Regions from separate parts of the Homo sapiens genome. Here region 2 is linked to region 1. A link means that fine-mapping ties the variant in region 1 to the expression of a gene that starts in the linked region. Tissue or cell type: lung. Region 1 holds a variant in brackets; the other region holds the start of a gene. All regions are shown on one strand. Distances are from middle to middle.

The links. PIP is the estimated chance that this variant, and not a neighbour inherited with it, causes the effect.
Region 2: it holds the start of NALF1, and the variant in region 1 is fine-mapped to the expression of NALF1 in lung (TOPMed, PIP above 0.99).

The regions. Positions count from the first base shown.
Region 1 is chr13:108,066,306-108,072,408 of GRCh38, forward strand. No RefSeq gene overlaps it. Among named protein-coding and RNA genes, the nearest start is that of LIG4, 150 kb to the right of the region's middle. The variant C/T (reference allele first, on the strand shown) is at 3,330.
Region 2 is chr13:107,863,936-107,870,038 of GRCh38, forward strand. NALF1 (NALCN channel auxiliary factor 1) reads right to left here and starts at 3,561. Exons shown (of 3, transcript NM_001080396.3): 1 at 1,747-3,561. The coding sequence starts at 2,661. LOC124903206 (heparan sulfate glucosamine 3-O-sulfotransferase 4-like) reads left to right here and starts at 2,738. Exons shown (of 1, transcript XM_047430833.1): 1 at 2,738-6,103. The coding sequence starts at 2,962. The coding sequence ends at 3,525. RefSeq lists an enhancer at 4,029-4,597.

The sequences.
Region 1 (6,103 bases):
AACCATCTAAGTCTTTGCTTAAAAAAAAAATAGAATTAAACACCACTGATCTCTCTAGTAGTACATGCATCTACTAACATCTACTCAAAGAACCCAATACACTAGAGAGAGAAAGAGAGAGAAGGGAGGGATGGAGAGAGGGACAGAGGGAGACAATATTGATCTATCAGTTTATTACATTTTTAAGCATTTACTGGGACTATATCCTTTATTCTATGTTCATTCATAATATTTATATGATTAAACAGCATAAATATAAAGCCAAAGAATTACTACTAAATATCTAGAGTAATGGTGATAAAATCTTTGATATTTAATAATCAGTTGTGCCTATATAATATTAATATTTGTAGTTTTGCCAAGCCATTAAGGTTATTTCCAGAGGCAGTAATGGATGCACAGCATGCTTAGGAAGAAACCAATGCAGATATTGTTGGATGCATACCCTGATGCTTGACCCTGTTACATGTATTTCATTTTATTCTCACACCAGTCCTTCGATATAGATAATATTACATGCATTTTACAAATGATGCAATTGGTCTCTATAGAGTTAATTATTTGTCTGAGGTTATAATGAAAGAAAAACAACTAAGTCTTCATATCTCAAGACTAGCAAATTTTTTGCTATATTGAGCTACATTGGAAGTTTCATTGTTGAGATAGTATACAACTTTCAAAATTCAAAATTATTATTTATTGTTTTACTGAAAAGATAAATGTGAAAGAATATGATATATTGAAAATAATGCATTTCCTTTCCACCTAATTAGCTCATAAACTCAATGAAAGAGTGGGTAGATAAAGATATCTAGAAGAGTTATTCCTTCTTTCTCATGTGAATGAATGTGAAAATAAGAGAATATCACAAATATTGTCTTTGGAAATAATTCTTACATGTATTCTATGGTGGTTGAAAATAAGGCTCTTCCTAGAGAGCAGGGTAATAGTACATGTCATATGTAAAGGAAAGAAAAAAAATAGATATATAAATTGTGTAGGAAATTCAGTGTTGTAGTAAACGGGAGATAAGACTGGTGTCAGAGGAGTGGAAGTCAATTATAAGAGAATGCAATCAGTTTCATAATTCACTTCATGTGCCCCAATAAACAAATAGCAAATATTTGTTATTTCCTTAGCTAATGAAAAGCAAATAATAATTTTTAAAAATAAATCACATTTGAATTTTTTATTCAAATGATGATAATAAGAAATGTGAAAATATGAATCATATTACATATAATGAAGTGCTATCATAATTCTAAATTACTTTCTTTAAATAACAATACTGAGATACACACAAATACCTCTGAGGACTAATCTCTGATTTTTTTTTCTTGTCCAGATTTCTATCTGAGTGACCTGGGGAGTCATGCCCTACAAACCATAAATTCTCATCAGATGGGTTTTATTTAATCCTATATATTGTGACTTACTTTCCAATCTGACTCTGCCATAACATTACGAGACAAGGAAGAAACTCAAAATACTGGGCTGGGCATAGTGGTTCATGCCTATAATCCTAGCACTTTGGGAGGCCAAGGCAGGTGGATTGCTGGAGCTCAGGAGTTTGAGCCCAGCCTGGGCAACACAGTGAAACCCTGTCTCTACTAAAAGAGAAAAAATTAGCCAGGTGTGGTGGTGCATGCCTGTAGTCCCAGCTACTTGGGAGGCTGAAGCAGGAGAATTTCTTGAACTCAGAAGAGGGAGGTTGCAGTGAGCCAAGATTGCACCACTGCACTCCAGCCTGGGCAACAGAAAGAGATACGGTCTCAAAAAACAAAAAACAAACAAACAACAACTACAACAAAAAAACAAAATCAAAATACTTTACCCCAAAACATGTTTCTCTGCTATATCTTGAAATGGCCCTGCAAAGCCATTCTTTGTGGAGGAAAATCTGCATCTGTAAAGAATCTCTATTAACATAGATCATTGCCAGGTCTGTCCCACCAACCCTGGCAGAGAGACAGATGAAAGGAGTGCACAGACACAGGTATTTTGCCTGAGAGCGTGGCTAGGGGACTGCACAGCATAGCACCATTGACAAGAGTGCAGCCCTGATAAGATGGAGCCATTTGTATTTATTTAGTACAGATTTAATGACAAAGGCCTGGAGCAAACACAACTTGTGGGTAATTAACACTGTGGACCCCCCAAGTTAGAGAGCTCCTGAGTGCGAATGATCAAAGGCTGGTTTCCAGGGACATAAGTAAACCAATTTATCTAGCTAAGTTCCTTTACATTCCCTTGTTACCTACCCTTTACCCTTAAGAGAATTTAGCTGATGGCAGAATTTAGCTGAAAGCTTTTGCAAAACCTCCCAGCCTTCCAAGGAGATTTGCGTCTTTCCCTAAAATTTTTTCTTATAACTTTTCCCACCACCCTGACTGATGTCCTACAGATCTTTTTGTTCCAGGTCCTCCCAATTCTGAAGAGATTAACTAAAAGTCTAGCACCTTTTAAAGATCTGAATAGGAAACATTTGTCATCTATTGTCTCTAAGGCAGCCACTATAAGACTTCAAAAGAACCTTGGCCTCCACAGTCTTTTCTCTTAACCTGAACATTTCCTTTCTATGGATCCCAGGTCTTTAGACAAACTCAACCAATTGTCAACCAGAAAACGTTTAAATTTACCTATAGACTGGAAGCCCCTCCCCCCAACCCCCTCACCTCCCCACCCACTTTGAGTTGTCCCGCCTTTCTGAACCAAACCAATGTATTTCTTAAATGTATTTGACTGATGTCTCATGCCTCCCTAAAATATATAAAACCAAGCTGTACCCCAAACACCTTGGACATATGTTTCTTGGGACCTCCTCAGGGCTGTGTCATGGGCCATGGTCACTCATATTTGGCTCAGAATAAATCTTCTCAAATATTTTACAGAGTTTTACTCTTTTTGTCCACACCTCAAAACCCTCCTTGTCTTTTAAAATTAAACCAAATTTGTGTAAATGCTCAGCTTATTCTGAACGAACTTGTTTGTGAGTTTTATTATACATGTATTTTATGGTGTGTGTGTGTGTGTGTGTGTGTGTTTAGCATATAAACTCCTAAAGGATAGGGAAACTTTTTACAGTGGCTTCTTAAAATAGTTATGTGTGTATACCTTTGATGAATGAAAATATGCAAATTTTAAAAACCCCAAATCAAGTTCCGTTGAGCTTTGGATTATAGAGGAGAGCTGAAGGAAGTTCATGTCCACTGTGAAAAATTAAAAAAAGAAATTCAATTTTAACCTAACAGAGACCTAAGGTGTTAGAAACAAATGCTCGGTGCTGCAAAGAAAAATCAGCACTCTGGCAAAAAGCTTTCTCAACAAGG[C/T]GATTTACTTCTGCAGAAGAGTGCCACTTGTGCCTGGTGTGGTTGCAAGAGCACATCAAGTGGGGTGGGGAAGAGGTTTTATTCCAAACACAGCAGCTCCTGTAGCTGTGTCCCTTTCTCCATTGGCTGTAGTTGGACTGCACAATCTAAGCTGACCCAATTGGCTACTGTTTAAAATTGAATAGAGTTAACTAGGTGGGATGGGAGAGGCTGTCCGTTACAGTTTTAGGGTGCAGTAAAGGCAGGAAGGATAGTTCTAGGGGGAAGGTCAGTTACAGAGTGGGTAACCAAGGGAGTAGATGTGAGTTTTAGAGTAGGACTGGCAGGAAGGTTGTTTACCCTAACTAGGGGCAAGGAGGCACAAAGAACGAGGAAGTTAGACTTTGAAAACTGAGATCAAAGAACAAGGAAGCTGAGCAAGCTGACTCTTTGAAGAGAAACTCACTGTACCTCACAAAGGTCACAAGGCAATCAACTGGCCCAAAATATAAGGAGATGTGAGTACCCACAGGGAAAGAAAAGACAGAAGCACTTCCCTCCATGGGATAGATAACAATCAGATATTAGAAGAAAAGAGTTCGGCTGGGCGCAGACTCTAGTTAAAGTATCACCCATGTAGTGAGAATTCAGTTACCACCCGATTAAGTCCTACACTGAAGGCTACTGTCATAGGCCTAGTCTTTAGAAGTTGATCCTTGAAGAGGAGTCCTTGTTTAGGAGACATGGAACAAGGGAAGCAGTTTAGGTCAGGGGGAATCTAAGCCAGGATTCAGTCTCCCCTGTAAACTGGCTTCCCTGTGTTCCCAGGCAAGCGCTGGGGCCTGGCTTTCTCTGGAGATCATTCTAAAGCCATCCGACTTTCAGCACCCCTGTCTTTTACCTATTGACCAACTGCTTGCCTCAGGGAGGCCTTAAGGGCATAATCTTCTGGGCAAGGTGACTGCCATTTTACTGCACAATGTTCTGCCTGGCAATTAGCAGGCTCTAAACAAATATTTGTTAAATGTTATTCATGTTATTTATTATCTGTTTAAATGCTCCCCCCCGCCACCGCCACCTTGCCCACCTCCAGTGACTCATGTTCAACATAGTCTGAACTGAGTTCAGCATTTCTCCACCCACGTATCCTGTCTTAATCTTATTATTATCCTCCCCGACACAGAAGCAAGAGATTTCTAAGTCAAATTTACTTCTTACTTGCCTTTATTCACTCATAAATAATTCATTAATTCTACAAATATTGCTGCTGAAAACTAAAATAAGTGCTGGTGACACAGAGTCAAACAAAACACAGCCTCTGCTTTCAAAGATAATTGTACCTAGTGGAAAAGGGAGAAAAGTAAATCAAGATTTACAGGACAACGTGGAAAGTGCAATGGCAGGACAAAGAAGAGAGGCCAGGAGAGGAGGGGAAGTCATCAGGAAGAAGTGAAGCTTAATCCGAATTAGAAAGAATGAAGGGGAGGGAACCAAGATGAATCAGGGAGAGGGACAGAGGAAATGGGATGTGCAGAAGCAGGGAGGGCTCCGTGGTGAATGGTTCCAGCCAGGATGCCAGTAGTTCACAGTGGCTGCTTGGAAGCCAAACATCAGGAGAGGCCAGCGAAGTCTCCCAAACGCAGACATCCTGTGGGGCCAGGGAACAGGCACTGCTCTGATTCTACAGAATTTGCAGAAAGGTCATTTGTCTTATTTCAGAAAGCTCTGGAGAGTGGTTGAGGGATTTTATGCAGGGTTTAATACTGTGTGGGAAGTTGAGGGGGGCAGGTGTGCATGCTATAAAGAGTATATTTTCTCATTATGCCATGGGGATCTAGTGAGAAACTTTGTCAAAATTGTATATGATTTATATAAAATCATATAAGAAAAAGAATGCAAGAAAAATGTATATACTATGCTTATAGCAATTCTCTTTTGTTTTGAACTAGCTCAGAATGGAAATATCTGATTTGTTCTAGGCACTGAGGATCCAGAGGCACATAAGAACCAGCGCCTACCCTGGGAAAGCACCATCCATCAGTAGTAAAAGCATGTGCCAATATAATGTGGTAAGTATCAGCACAAAGATGTGAATGGGTGGCTGAGCTAGGACAGCAAGGAAAGGCTGACTGCCTGAAGCTGACTCTCCTCCCGATCCATGATGGGTCCTGGTGACCAACTGCTTCCTTCTCTAACTACTTGCCACTTTTGTAACCCATCCAAGAATCCAGCAGGATAGATCCATTTGTCTGTGGATAGTGAATTGTCTTTCACATTTCTGTTCAAATGCAAACTTTTAAAAATTAAAACATTGAGAATTTAACATTTTGTTGGTGTGAACATTTAAATGGTGTGAATACTCCTTGACTAAATAAAAAGAATAAAATAGACTTTGATTATAAATTCACTCCTGGTAGACCTGAACTACAGTTATTAGGTACTTCTACTAGTTGTGGTGAGATCAAGCTAAAAATTATATACAATAAATGTCATTTGGGTCTAATTCCTCATAGCAGTTTCATGTAAGGTCAAGCATTCTATATTTGTGTGTTTATTATGCATTTGATTTTTATTTGTTTTTTAAGTAGAGAAACAAATAAGCCGAACTCATGTGCTATAAAAATTCAACAAAATAATCCTTATACTACTTTGTAATACTTTGGAAGATTTAATTACTCATGTTTCTTAAATAGTCTCCATAAACTCCTATTATACATTTGACACATTGATAATTGTGAGGTCAAAATAAATTTGCATTTTTGCATTTAATTGTTAATTCAAAACTAAAGCAGTTC
Region 2 (6,103 bases), 200 kb before region 1:
TAGGGTTTACATGCAGGGAAGGAGGCAAATATAATTATTACAGGGTACCACTCTTAAACACAACTAAACTGAACCCTCTGCAATCCTTTTATTACTAGTAGAATTAGAAGACGTAGAGTTTCCTTTTCTTTACAATTTCAATGCAACATATCTTGTCAAAATAAATAACTGCAATTATTGCAGTAGTTATTCATTATTAATTTCTACCATTAAAGTTTTATTCCCAGGCATAAGTTAAAGTGATATGGTTAAAAAAATAGATAAAAAAGTTTAAGATACACTTGTCTAGTGAAGTATCACTCTAAATTAATGTTGTAAATTCAGACTTACTATTTTCAGAGAGCTGTGTTTCTGGTCTTGAAGAATGAGAATAAGGCAAGGTCAGTTTGAGTTTAATTTAACTGTCAAAAGCACAACTAATCCGCCCAAAGTAAAATATGGCCTTTCGACTGTGTTCATTTAAAATAGGCATCCCTTAGTCCAGTTCTTTTATCAAAAAAATCACAAAATTATTTGATCTATACCACCCTTGACTTTATTTTCCCAGCAGAACGCAAGTGAGACAGAGGAACAGTTGTTCTGCTTGTATATGGGATTGGGAAAGTAGGAGAGAAAGAGAGAGAATGTGGTGTATTATTTCCCTTGAAAAGCAGTACCCGTTTATTGTGTTGTGTAAGAAATTACCCTTGGAACAAAACATTAAGGCTTATAGAGATACTGTCATTACATCTTCCCTACTAAAGGTCACTGCAGTATCTTCATCTTCAGTACAGCTCTTGGGTAAATCTCATTTCAGCACCACGGACAGAGACGCTTCTATTAAAACCTGCGCCTATTGTTGCATTTGCATCGACCAATTCTTAAGAAACTTGCGCAGGCTTCCCATTTGCCCATCAGCAAGGGTTATATTCTTTATTACACTGAACAGGGAGAGCTTAAATATAATACAGACTATTAAATATTTCAGTAAATTTTAACTACATCATCAACGTTTTGCTATTTAATACTTCTGGAAAGCATACTGAAAATCAAGCTAATTACATAGTGTGTCTGATAAATAGCCTATTGCTAGTCAATCACTAGACACCTAATTACAACTGTTCATTCATAGTGAGTCCCAGATCAATAATTATACAAATGTCCAAGAGGAAACAGAAAACTTAAAAAAAGTAAATATCCTCAGGTAGGCCCCCAGACTTTCTGAACAACCAGAACTACCCCTGTAAAAACAGGTAATTCTTTTTAACTACCGAAACAACTACAACCACTTTCTCTTGCTCAACCAACTTAATGATGTCACTATGAGAGCGTTCCTGTGTGCAGATCTATATTGCAAACCACACATGCCTGTCTCGAACTCTTCTGACTTTACCTGTGAGCATCAGTGTGCAGTCTCATTGCTATTTTCCTGACAAGACTTTTTCAACTTCCTTTTCTTAAAAGATGTAACAGAGTTTGAGCCAACTGCATGAATGTAAGAAACAGTTAAAGTGCCAGCTTGATTATCTCAGATAACCGGGGACTTCCCTGATCTTCCAAGGACTCCCAGAAGAAGGCATCAGTCAGTCCACCAGCAATCCACCAGGTATTCTCATCTCAAACAGCAAGCCAAGCTCTTAATAACCGCAGAAAACACAAAGTAACAAAACCATAGCCAAAAAATAATAATAATAAACTTGAGAAGACACCCCAACCAAGCAGAGATAGGAAAGTGCAGGAAAGGGGGAAACCCCCGAGGGTTCCTACCTTACAGTCTTCAGGACAGGATTTCACCGAGTACTCCTCCGACTGTAAATATTTGTGGAGCACGCTTTCAAACTCTTCGTATTTCTCCTGAGCATGGTGGTCATAGTCCTGGTAAGCCTCGACGCACTGCCTGCAAGTGGTCATCTCGCCGCCTTCCTTGAGCACCACATCCAGACTGCAGTTCAAAGTGTTGGGACTGGACAACCCCGAGAACAACTCCCAAAGTGTGTAGGAATTACAAAACGAAAGGTAAAAATCCGACAAGTTCCAGAGCGGAGTGGGATGCTTGCTCCTCACCTCCTGCCCGTCCCCCCCGGCCGCCCCCCGACTCCAGTTCCTGGCGCACACCGCGTCCGCATTCTCCACCGTGAAGCACTGGCCCGAGGACGCGCCCTGGGGGTAACAAGTCTCCAGGCGCCACACGGGCTTGGCAGAGTTTCCTAGAAAAAGAGCCTTGCCCCGGTCGTCTTTGCCTCGGTTGCCCTTGCCGCCGCCGCCGCCGCCGTCTCCCGGGGAGGGGGGCAGGGTGGGGGACGAGGAGGCGGAGAGGAGTCTGTGTGCCTGGGCGGCGGGCGAGGACTCCCCCATGCTCGCCAGGAGCGCGGGCCAGGAGGGCTCCTGCTGCCGCCGCTGCTGCTGCTGCTGCTGCCGCTGCCTCTGCTGCTGCTGCTGCTGCTGCTGCTGCCGCTGCTGCTGCTGGTGCTCCTTGTCCCGGGCCCGGGTCAGCTTGGCCTCGGCGCAGAACCACAAGTGATCAGAGAGCAGGACTGTGAAAAACAAGAGAGATGCCAGAGACAGTCGCCATTTCTGAGCCCTCTCGGAATCGATGAACGGTTTCTCGTTCTCTCGGGGTGCTGCCAACCAGATTTTTAAGCCGTCGTCATACTGCCGACACATCCAAGCACCCCTGGTCATATTTTGGGAACGCACAGCCCTGGCCGACTCCACCGTGAGGGCGCCTGTGCCGGTGTCACCACAATATGCATTGACTTAAAGGGTTTAATTTCCTTATCCCCTCCTCCCGTTTCTTCTCTCTCCTCTCTCTCTTTCTCTCTCTTCCCCTCTCCCTCTCTCCTCTCTCTCTCTCTCCCTCTCCCTCTCTTTTATCTCTCTCTGTCTCTTTTGCCTACATAAATATTACCAGGCTTTGAAGGAAGGTCTGACTTGCTTCCTAATCATCAGCCGACCCCATCCTCTGTAGAGTGGGAAACAATAATGGAGAGAGAGAGAGAGAGAGAGACGGAGGAGGCTGGTGCTGGTGGCCGGCGGCGAGGCTGGGTGCAGGGGGCGATGGTGGAGGTGACAGGGTGGCTGGCGCGGCTCCGGTCACCCAGGCATTGTCAGCGCGCGGGTCCCCATGGCCCCGCGGAGCCCAGCCCGCTCTCCCCTGCCAGGGGCATGCCGCGCCTCCGCTGCCCACTGACGGCGCCCGGAGCGCCTCCCCTCCTCCTCCTCCTCCTCCTCTTCTTCTCCTCCTCTTCCTCCTCCTTCCTTTCCTTCTCCTTCTTCTTCTCCTCCGCCTCCCGCTCCTGCTCCGCGCTGGCTCTCCCAGAGTCCGGAGCCTGGGCTGCCTCCGGCGGGGCGCTCCCTCCCCCCCACCCCCCACCCCGCGCTCTAAGTGCTGCCGCCGCCGCCGCCGCCGCCGCCGCTGCCGCAGGGCCGCCCGCGGGCGCCGCCGCCGGGGCTCCGACTGCTGACGCCGCCTCCCGCGGAGCTCCGGGCCGAATCGCCTGGGCTGGGCCTCCCGAGAGCCACAGTCATCTTCAGTCCGCGGGCTAAGTTGCCGCCATCTTCGTCCTGGAGAAACACTTTTTTGGGGGGAGCGCTGGCTTTTGCGTCATCTCCTCCCGCGCCGAGCTCGCTCCATCCTGGCGCAGTGGCGCCGGCTCGGCCCGGGAGGAGGGAGAAGGCGCGCGGGGGCGGGCGGCGGCGGGGCCGCGGGGCCCGGGGGCCCCCGCCCGGCTCCCCGGGCTCAGGCGCCTGCTCTTTCCTTTCTGTCCCCCTGTCCACGATATTTTGTTTTAATCACTGAAGAGAAAAATAAAAGTCAGACTGCGGACGGCATGGCCGGTGAGGCTCCTCGCGGCCGCGCCGCCCGCACGCTCTGGCTCCGGGAAGCGTCCGAGTTGCAGGCGCCCGGGCAGAGGTCTCTACTGGTGCGAGGGTCTGGGCAGAGTCCTCTCAACTAAGGACCGAGCCACTTCGGATGGAAGGTGGGGGTCCGCGGAGGAAGCTCGAATTGGCTAGAGGAGGGATGAGGTGACATTTGGTCTCTGAATGCGTCTCGGATCCCGGACCGCGAGATCCATCGCTCCCAGTGCGTGCAGTTATTCCGTCCTGCTGTGTGACACGGGAGAATGGCGCGCACGCCTGTGCACCTGCATCGACCGTGTAGCTGCCTGGGTGACAGCCACCCATTTGTCTATGTTTTCTTTCCTATTCTAAAGTAAACGATTAGAAGTGGCCTCATAGAGTCTTAGGAAGAAACAGTAAGCCCTGTGCCACCCGGGGTCACTGCCTAGCCCTGCCCTCCGCGCGCACCGTCCGCGTCTCCGAGGGCTCCTCCTCGGACCTGGACCCTCTGGAGCGGCTTCGACCCTCCCTCTGCCCCCGCTGCCTGCGTCCAGACCCCCTCCCGGGTGGGCTCCTCCGAGGACCTCCGCAGCCGCGGGCGAGCTGGGTGCCTGCGAGTCGCCGCCGCAGTCTGAGCCTCTGGTGCCCCTTAGCGTTGGCTCTCGGAGTTCTGAGAAGGGAAAGGAGACAGACACTCTGGGAAAATCTGGGGTCACCTCGATTCCGGCTCCTACGCTGGATGCCGTGGGCAAGCATCGGTCTCCTTTGATCTGAAGATCCTGCCCACTCCGCCCCTTGCCCCTGCCAGACCCGCGGGAGCAGCAGGTGGCGTGGGTGCCAGACGCTGCCGGTGCGCACCGAGTGCAGCGCTGCCCCGGCTCGCCCCGGGGGTCGCGTGGGACAGCGGTTTGCGGTGTCGCCCTCTCTGCGGTGCTTTCCAAGGACCCTCATGCCCCGCCCGGGTGCACATTCACCACATGGGTCTTACTAGGTGACCTCTTTCTAAGTAAAATGCATTGAGAAACCAAAGGGATGGGGCATCCGTATCCATTTTCCTTTAAGGAGCGCTGTGGGTGTTGGGGATGCGGGAGAAGTAGGTGTTTTTTAAAGAGAAAATTGCAAAACCTCTTGGGCAGGATTCGACCTACTAGCCTCTTCTGCTGCATAATAAGGTACTGTATACACTAAATTTTACCCCTAAAAATTTTCAGTTCTTACCAACTATAGGTAATGATCATCCAAAAGCCGCGTCCTGTTTGATGGCTGGTTTACTCAAGTGTCATGTAGTGTTTTAAAAGACGATTTGTGTAAGTAGATCATTCTAGTACTTTCGATTTCAGTGTGTTGAATTTCTGAGTAATGTCAGTTTTTCCTCATAATACAGACAAAATTATTATTTATTAACCAGATTGTTTATTAATCAGGACTGTACTGTACATGCCACAATATTTCTTAACTAAATACGAGTGCATACATTCTCGCTGACATAACTATTATTATACAAGTACAGTTTGTGCATTGTAAAAAAGGTGTAAAAATCAGAAGAGCAATTTAAAAAGTCATGGTGATATCAACACCCAGATATAATCAGTATTTTCATTTTACAGCATCTTCCTAACATTTTTATTTTGTATTACTAATTTCCTGTTTTGTGATATTCACTAGTCCAGCATTTTCGAAGGATTGAAGTATGATAGAATACACATCCACACTTATTAGATAATAATATATTTCCCTTCAATAATGCATTAATTTTAATCAGACACAAACATTTTAATGGTGGCTGAGATTATTAGCATCCAATGTCTTACTCTGCATGTGTGATTAAATCAGAAAGAGAACGAAAACTAGGGGAAATAAAATAAACAATATAAATTTAAAGGTTCATAATTATCAAACAAGGAACCGAAGCAAAAGAAGACTCTGTGACTTATCTTATTACTATTCAGATCTAGTAAAAATCATGTCTCAGAAGGTAGTTCAGTGATACTTAGTAAAAGTCTTATATACTGCATTAAAATAATAGTGTTTAATCTATTTTTACTTTATGTAACAGACTATAGTTAATTATTTTTAAGTAAGCTGGGCCTTGCCTTCCTCTAATGTTTCTCATGAATTAGGATATTTTTATAAAAGACAATTTTAAGGACGCAAGCCCACTGAAAGTAAACTGTTGAGAACCAATTTGACTTTTGTTTGTTGTGTGTTGGTTCTAGAATGAACTGTTGGAAGACAGATAAAAGACCAAGTCTGGCCTCTTGAAGCTTAGTCAAGGGGCAGATAA